Linked DNA regions of Homo sapiens: region 1 is linked to region 2. The links come from fine-mapping of genetic effects on gene expression. A gene starts in region 2. The other region holds a variant in brackets. All regions are shown on one strand. Distances are between the middles of the regions. Region 1 has its middle 58 kb from the start of LINC01852. Region 2 holds the start of SPRED1 (sprouty related EVH1 domain containing 1).

Region 1 (4,389 bases), 120 kb after region 2:
AGAATAAAAAAAGTTACAGGGAAGTATAAAAAAATCCTTAGAATCAAAATATTGTAAGAAATGGCAAACAGAATCAACAAGAAAAAGGAAAGAAAAGAAAAATGATCAAGAGAGATAAATTTATTATGAGAGGATAAAATTCCAATGAAATTATTTGAAAATGTGGTACCTATATTTTGCAATACAATTCACAAGTTTTTTGCTTGGTTGAAAATAGAGACTTGGACATATTCAAAGTTTGAGTGGTATTTAATTTGCAAATTATTATCTTTTTTTATTTATAAGATTATTATTGAGCACCAACCACAGAGTAGGCTTGGTGGTAGATACAGAAATACAGAGATAAAGGACAGAGTATTCCTCACCTAAACTAAGCTAAGCTCAAGAGTCTAGTGGGACTTACCAGACACTACCAGGGTGATATCTAAAACAGGTCAGGTGATTTTTTTTTTTTTTTCAGACACAGTTCAAGCGATTCTCCTGCCTCAGCCTCCCAAGTAGTTGGGACTACAGGTGTGTGCCACCACGCTAACCTAATTTTTTTGTGTTTTTAGTAGAGATGGGATTTCACCATGCTAGCCAGGATGGTCTCGATCTCCTGACCTCTTGATAAGTGATTATTTCTTTAGGATTTTAAATAATTTATAATGGGAGGGATACAAAGAGGGAAAGCTAGATGAGCAGCTAAGATGGCCGTCAGTGTTTAGTGTGTCTGTGAACAAAGAGAAAGAGATTGTCTTCAGCATCAGCATTCCTTAAGTGGGCATTTCTCCTGGAATTTGTAGCCCTGATTTTGTTGAAGGTTTCACCAAGCCAGATCCATTGAAAAACTGTGTTTATTACTTTGGTTTTTCAGGGTAGAATTTCAAATTTGGTTTGATGCTCCAAATGTGTTGGTGATCTATACATTCAAGGCAGTGTGCTAGGTGCTGGGGGTACCAAAGATGAACAAAATGTAATCTTTGTCCTGAAAGAGTTCAGTGTCTACTGAGATAGATGCATATACTCTTAACAACGGTGTATTTTATAGCACTTTATAGTCAAAAAACACTTTCACGTAAATGATCTTAATTGGTCTTCACAATAGCCTAATGAAGTAAGTAGAGTCAGTATTGTCAGCCCATTCTACAGATAGACAATTAGATTAAAAACAATGCCTATTGTTTGTCTGGAGATTTACACTATGTTAACTCCATCCTCTATGTTACTGTCCTTAGGCAATCAATCAACAAGGTTTGTTGATTCTATCACCTACATGTCCCTGTAATTTCTCTCACTATTTCCACCACCACTGCCTTAGTTGAAATAAGTTCATCCTTCCTTGCCCAGGCTATTTCAATAACCTCCTAATTGGTCCCCCTGCCTACAATTTCTACCCACTCCAATCTGCCACAGAATTATCTTTCAAAAACAGCAATGATCATACCACTCAGCTGAAAAATTCTTGCTGGCTCCTCTCTCCACCAACATATGCATGGCATAAAGGCACTTCACAAGGCTCCCCCAATAAAAACTTCAAACCTTACCTCTTGATGTTGATCAACCCTGCCCCCTTGCTAAATACACACAGACTAGATGCTCCAGCTACACTAAACTTATCATATTTTTTCAACCCAATGATTGTTGAATATGAGTATCTACCAAACATTGCATGAGACTTGCTCATATTAACATTTTTAAAACCCAAAATTCAAATTAAACTGGCCATCCTGCTTTTTTCTTTGTTAAATCTGAGAACTCTAGTTCCTACAGACCTAAAATCCAGCTCTTATACCCCCTGGCCATTAAGCACTACCGCATGTGCAGTATCTAGTGACAACCAAGGCTGAAATTCCCACCCTGCCTTCATGGAACTTCCAGATGAGCAGAGAAGGTACAAAAACTATTTCTAGAATTGATATTTAACACTCAAAGCCTACATGTTTTTGATAAACATTGACGTGGTAAACTACAGGCCCAAGGACATGTCATGTACTCATCACATAGGAGAAAATAAATCCAAAACATTTTTTCAGTTGCCTAATGATAAGAATATATTGAAGGCAGTCTGAAAAGCTTAGTTGAAAATGTCTCGGTTACACTTTTACTCAAACTACTACAATATTGAGATCAGCGTAACCTTGGTCAAATTGCTTAACTCTTCTGTACTTCCTTTTAAAGTGTGCACGGGGGAGAGAATGGGGC[A/G]AGAGTAGGAGGGTAACCAAACTCTCTTGCCTAATGAAATGACTGTCAAGCTAAACGTGTAATATTAATATGTATTCAGACGAGGGCAGAGGCAAAAGTCAGGCGAGGAGCATTAATTAACAAGTTTTCAGTTCTTGTTGCAGAATGCACAAACCTGGAATTGGAGCCAGGAGATTGCAAAAATGATTCCAGATCTGCATGGTAACAATTTAGACTGACTTCCACTCCTGCCTGAAATTTTGCAGCAGAGGAAGTTCTTTCCCTGGCCGTCTGCCTTCCCCCGCCTCCTCCATCCCCCAGTACCTCAGGCCTCTCACTCCCCACATCTGTTTCCAAGCCAGAGAGCTTAGGGTCACAGCATGGCGCAATAAGCAGCATTAGCAGGCAGCATGAATCAGTGGCAAACCTTTGATTTTAATCCCTTGCCTCTCCTAGAGAGGAAGTGTGGTCTAGTGGTTAACCCACTGAAAAAGCAGCTAGAAGGCAAAATTCCTGGTCCTCTCCATGCCCTTGTTCTATTCTTATTGGGACACGCTGCCTGTCAAACATACTTTTTTTTTTTTTTTTTTTTCCAGCGTCCCTCTACTACATTATTCCCTCAACTGGCTTTATCATAAAACACATGCAGGAAACTGGTTAAACAATTCCTTAGCCTTATTCCAGAATCTCCCAGGGAAAGGCCTGGGAATCTCCATTTTTAACAGTTACTACAGATGAGTCTTTATAATCAGCCTCAGCTCATCTGTATGCCCGTTATACGTCACACCAGGCGAAGAAGAAGCAAGCTTTAAAGGAAACCTAGCCAGGGAACTGAGGCGAAAAGAGTGTATCTACAGAACGATTTGCTTTTACAAGCCCATGTGAGAAAGACGAAAGAGTAGGACAAGGAGATCCGGACTCTAGTTCTGGCTCTGTGTTTCCAGATCTGTGCGAGCATGGACAGGTCAGTGAAACTCCCCTGGTGGCATTCTCATCATCTTAAAAATAAAAGTGATTAGATCATCTCTTTCAGTTCTGTGATTCAATGAATTATTTCTGTGATTTCACAGAAATGCCAAGATGGGCTCAGAAAATCTCTTTTCCTGAAAATGACAGCGGGTGCAGTCACGGAGGTGTGGGCTGACTTGTTTGGGGTTGTGGGAAGACAATGGAGACAAGTGGCAGCCGGGAGGTTTGGGGCCATGGCCGCAAGGAGATTTCTCCCCTCCCTTCTCTCTTAAGGCTCTGCAGCTGGCCTACTTATGCAAAGGCTTTGGTTCCTCTTTCCTTTTTAAAAGCTTTTCTGATTCGTACATTCCCCTGAGGAGCAGAGATTCATCATTTTGCGGAGAACTTGCACACGCTTTCCTGAAAGGAAGAAAGGAGGGAGGGATGGGAGGGGTTGGGTGGATTAGTGAGTAGGCTAGGGTTGGTTGCCAAAGAAATGAGTCTCTCCATGTGTGATAAACATATAACCATCACATTGTTGGCTCTGAATATGCCCAGCAAAACCCTTTGTCCCACTTCCACAATGCCTAGAAGTGTGTTCTCGTTAGTGGACTGGACATCCGCCTACGCATCTGTCTCTGGAGCATTTGGGCATTCTTCCACCCCAGAACAAGTGGGGGTGAGTGAGGAGAAGGAGGAGTGAGTCATGACTGTAGGAAAAGGATGTCTTATGAAGCCAACGCAGAACTAGCTTCCTAGAAACATCATGACAGGTCCCATAAAGCCCACGTTTGGTTCTAATTATAACATGCCCACATTTGAGCATTTTTACAGTTTTCCCATGGTAACAACAGGGTTTCTGAGGAAGAGGACTTTGACTCAAATGTGCTCTATATGTCTAATAGTGTGAGCTGGTTGGACTAAAAAAAAAAGCAGTTATTTTTGCTATTTTACAAAGGAGATACTACTGGCTTGTCTATGCCTATTAACACAGCTATAAATGGGGGATAAGCACATGATATAAATAGGTCAAAATGAGCCAGATAAAATTTAAAAGATATTTTTTAAAGGCCAGGATGAGCAATGTAAACAAAATCAGAAAAAAATAAAAATCTTAAATAAGTGGAATTTGTTTTCCCCCTCAACTTGTGACAAATGGCAAGCTAAAAATAAACAAATAAGCAAGGATTTATTTAAAAAGCAACTTTGGAAGGACGCTTTGAACCATTTAATTCTGGCTCCATAGGCTACACATTCTGATCCTATTAAACCAGGACT
Region 2 (4,389 bases):
TCAGAACAGGGGTAGTTGTTTGTGTGTGCGTATGTTTTTAAATTTAACCTAAAATTTCACATTCTTCTTACCTTCTGAACTCAAAAATCTACACACAGACAAATAAGCCGCGAATTTTTTTTCTTGGGAAATCCTTTCAAGATGTCCAAGGTGATGGATGTTTAATTATTTTTTTTATGAATGAAGAGTGTGCTATGCAAATGAGGGCGATTCACAAAAAGAGACAGAACATGGCTGCCACTTCTGCTTCTACACTGCACTGACACTGCAGCAATGTACCTCCTTCTACACCCGCTCAGCAGAAGCGTGTGTTTTGGGGTGGGGAGGGAGTAAGGGAGGAGGAAATGTTGTTTGGCCTTTCTCTAGCTATTTTACGTTAAACAGGACTCGGTACAGACTTTAAAAAGTTATTTCAAAAAGGTCTGACTTTAGTAATGCACTGTATTTAAAGGAATGCATCCAAATGACTAAGTCCTAACTCACTTAACTCTTTCCAACCCTCCGAAGATAAACAAAAGTTGAACTTAATTACAAGAAAACGGATGCTAATATTCTGCTTGGAATTAAATCCCTTCTCAATAGAAAAGTGTTGCCAACCATTATTTCTCCACGCAGCTGTCACGTTAAAGCAAAACATTTAAAAGACGAAGTATTTCGTTTGGAAAGCAAGGAGAAAGCCCAAATAAGCTAAAACTTAAACCGGAATGCTCTAAAAGTTAATGAAATCACCAACATATTCAGCAATGTAAATTCGGTTACATCAACGTAAATCATGTGTTTTCACATAGCTGAAAGGTAAAAATTAGCATTCAAAATTCTTCTCCGTTCCTGAAGACACGTCCAATATTCACAAAGGTAAACTCTAGCTCAACATCGCCCACACTCCAGGTGTCCTTAATCCTATTAAATTCTAAAAATGTTTCCCTAACCCTATTTTTTACAAGAATCTTACAGGTCATAAGTTTAAAAGGGGGAGGGGGGAGAGGGTGAAGGCTTAATCGGTATTTAAGAGTCACTGACTCATCGAATTAAGATTCAAGAGCAGTTTGCTGCAGGAGGTGCTCCCACACATTAGTTTCCAAGTGAAACAGCTATAAAGGAAGTAGGATGGATACTGAAGGTATGGTGACTGGTATGTGAGTGAAAAAGGACGGGACAGGGGTCTCACAGGCAAAGGGGTAGTTTCTACTCCACTTCCATCCATCCACATTATTCCCTCTCATAGACGTACAATTGCCATCCTCTCCCAACACTTAATCCCCTACCCCAAAAGAAAGCAGCTAAATGTGGGAGGATGGGGAGGGGTGCTGCCACTAAAAATGGCTAAAGAAATCAGCTATCTCCAGAAGATGCACCGAACTCTCCAGGGTCGCAAGCTTTCCGGCACCCAAGTTTCGGATGGGTCTGGGGGAGAGCCGAGGGCGGATAGGGGGAGGGGGATTAGCAATCGAGATCAATGAGGCGCTTACTCGTTGTCAGAAGTCGCCGTCTCCTCGCTCATCTTTCCCTCACCGTGATCCGATCTGGAGATGGAGGAGCAACAGCAGGCGGGGGAGCAACAGCAGCACCGAGGGGCAGGAGGCAGCGGCGGCCGGGGGGGCGCGGGGGCAGCGGCACAGGGGCCTCACCATGGTGGATGCCTCACCCAGAACGGTACCCCCCCAGCCGGGAACCCCGGCCACCCCCGCAGGGGGGTGGCGGCAGCAACCTCCGCCGTGGCGACCCCAGCCTCTTCCCCCGCCTCAGTGCCCAGCCAAGGGATCCGAGGAGGCCCGGTGGAAAGGGAAAAAGAGAGGGGCTGCAAAGGCTGACTGGAGAGCTGCTCCTCCAGCCACTGGGGTGGAGCGCAGCGGGGTCCGGCCAGGAAGGAGTCGGCGGGCGGAGAACCCGGGAGCAGAGGCGGCGCTTCCCTCAGGGATGCGGCGAGGAGGAAGCAGAGCTCCGCTCGGTGGGGGCCGGCGGGGGGGTGCCGAGCCCAGGCTCCGGGCAGCGGCGGCGCGGTCCTGCCGGAGCCCACCCCACCATCTCCCGCCTCGCCGCCGGCTGCCCCTCAACCCCCGGCGGCGTCTGGGTCGGTCCTCAGGCGCCGGCAGAGCAGGGCTAGGGGCCCCGCGGCGGCGGATTCCTCCAGACACGCTCCAGCCGGGACTCCTCCTCAGGGGGGTGGAGGGGGCGGCGGGGAGCGTGTGAGGCGAGGGGCAGGCAAACCGATCGTTCCCACCCGGCCGGAGAAGAGCGGGCGGGCCCGGGTCCGGGGGGCAGGATCCCGAGAAGCGGCGGGAGAGGACAAGAGCGGCTGCAGGTTCCCCGCCAGCCAGTGCCCACCAGCAGCTCAGCGGGCCAGCTCCTCACGCCCGAGAGAGGGGAGCCGCGAGGGGGGCGGCGGAAGCGCTCACGCCGCCCGCTCCTTCCGCCGCCGCAGCCGCTGCCCGAACCGGGGGCGCCCGCGAGAGAAGGAGGCGAAGTAGTCCCTCGCGACTTCTCCCGGCCGCCCGCTTTCCCCGGAGGCCAGAGCGGGCGCGGGGTGGGGCTGCCGAGCGGGGTGCCCAGGCTGTGAGGGTGTGTGGGTAGGACTAAAAGCCGCGGCCTCCGGGCGAATCACTGCAACTCGAAGTCATGTGCAGCATAGCAAGTTTCAGGAAAGTAGTTCCCTCCTCCCTTCATTTCCCAAATCGTTGTCGAGCCACTTAGCGGAGAAAGGGGGAGGGAGGCGGAGGGATATCCTCCCTGCACCGTGCTCGGTGTGCGTGCGCGCGCTCCAAACTCTTGGCACGCCGCGAAAGGGGGCGGGGGTGGGAGCTGCGAGGGGAGCTGCTAGGGAGGTTGCATTGTTGTGGCGCGTTACTCCCCGTTACTCTGCTTGGAATATCCGGGTTGCTTGAACGAAGAGGCTAGAAAGACAGTGTGCTCAGAGGGGAAATCTGGAGGCTACTCTCTTCTGCCGTGTGTGTGTGTGTGTGTGTGTGTGTGTGTGTGTGTGTGTGTGTGTTTTCTTTGCAGAGCAAAGAATGGAACTGGCATGAGTTCATCTTTAGTTAGTGGGGGTTAGAAGCAGGGACTGCAAAGAGAGCTCCTCCTGCTGTCCCCCTGGTTGCACTGCTGCAGTCCCCTAGCTGCATGCACGAAGTGTATGTGTGTGTGTGTGTGTGTGTGTGTGTGTGTGAGAGAGAGAGAGAGAGAATATGAGAATGTATGTGTGTTTTAACACCTCGCCTCGCTGCCTGGATTCTTACTGCGCAAGGGGTATGCTATCAGGGCATTCATCTCGGAAAGCTGGAGTGATTGTTAATGGAGAACGACTTCCATTGAAGCCCAGGGTAGGCGTGTTACATGAATCTGGCGCAGCCAGAACGGAGGAAATAACTCCCGCTGCGAGTGAGGTTGCATAACTATAGCGCAGGAGATGCTTCTGTGGCACGAACTGCTCTGAACGGAGGCGGACCGATTGGATAGACAGCTGTCACGAATGCATTGTTAGAAGACAAAGTATGCATTCATCTCAAAAGATTTTTGCACAGAAACCTACTGGGGTTGCGGGCTGGAGCCTAAGGTCAGCCCAGCCACAGGAGTCAGAGCTCCTGGCTCTGCAAATTCTATTATCTGTTCTCCACTTAGAAAACCAGCCTGTACATGAACCACCTTAGGGGACTGAATCCCAAGTGCTCCCAAGTTCCTGACGCATCTTCCCAGATATAAGTCTCGCCCTGCGTGCAATGTTTTTCTCTTCCTTCTCAGATTTGTGCGACCTAAGAATGAAGGTTGCCGCTGGTGCCACATTAAAGAGAACAATTCCCGAGGAAAAAAAGAAGTTGGGAGAACCTCGTTAACAAGGCAGCACTCCTCTTCTACCATCCCTCTCCAGGAATCGCAGGATTGTTGTTCTGAGAATGAGCGTGCACAGTAGTGCACTGTTAACAGTGTTTTGCACGTAGCAGGTGCTTAATAAATGTTTGACGAATGAACAGAGGCGCTAAACCAGTCAATGTACCCAAAAAACCATCCCATTGATTTCTGAGGTCTCTTTATGTAACTTGATTCCTGCCTCAGCAGCAGCATTGTCCTTACTCTTGAGAAAGAGAGGGGCAATGTTGATGATGGTCTGTGCTAGACATGACCTCTAAACCTGCCTTTTTGAACTTATTCTTGCCAAGAACTTATACATGGGAGTGTTGATACTGGCCTCTTCCCCTTCCAGGACTACTGTTAACCAGTTAGGCTGCTCAAGTTTCAGTCAAGTACCATCAGTTATAATCTGTGTTCTTATCCAAGTTACTGAAACTCTGGGCCTGCATAAAATGGGGATAATAGTACTTAACTTACACAGCTGTTGTGCTGATGAACGAGATAATAATATACAGAGTTACTTAGAACAGATTAAGAATTCACAGT

What was found. PIP is the estimated chance that this variant, and not a neighbour inherited with it, causes the effect.
Region 1: its variant is fine-mapped to the expression of SPRED1 in whole blood (TOPMed, PIP above 0.99). The same link has a PIP of 0.9 or more in monocytes after R848.

The regions. Positions count from the first base shown.
Region 1 is chr15:38,129,081-38,133,469 of GRCh38, reverse strand. No RefSeq gene overlaps it. Among named protein-coding and RNA genes, the nearest start is that of LINC01852, 58 kb to the right of the region's middle. RefSeq lists enhancers at 3,149-3,278, 3,409-3,458. The variant A/G (reference allele first, on the strand shown) is at 2,185.
Region 2 is chr15:38,250,298-38,254,686 of GRCh38, reverse strand. SPRED1 (sprouty related EVH1 domain containing 1) reads right to left here and starts at 1,851. Exons shown (of 7, transcript NM_152594.3): 1 at 1,470-1,851. The coding sequence starts at 1,501. RefSeq lists silencers at 1,642-1,691, 1,702-1,761, 1,942-2,041, 2,142-2,191, 2,202-2,501 and 2 more.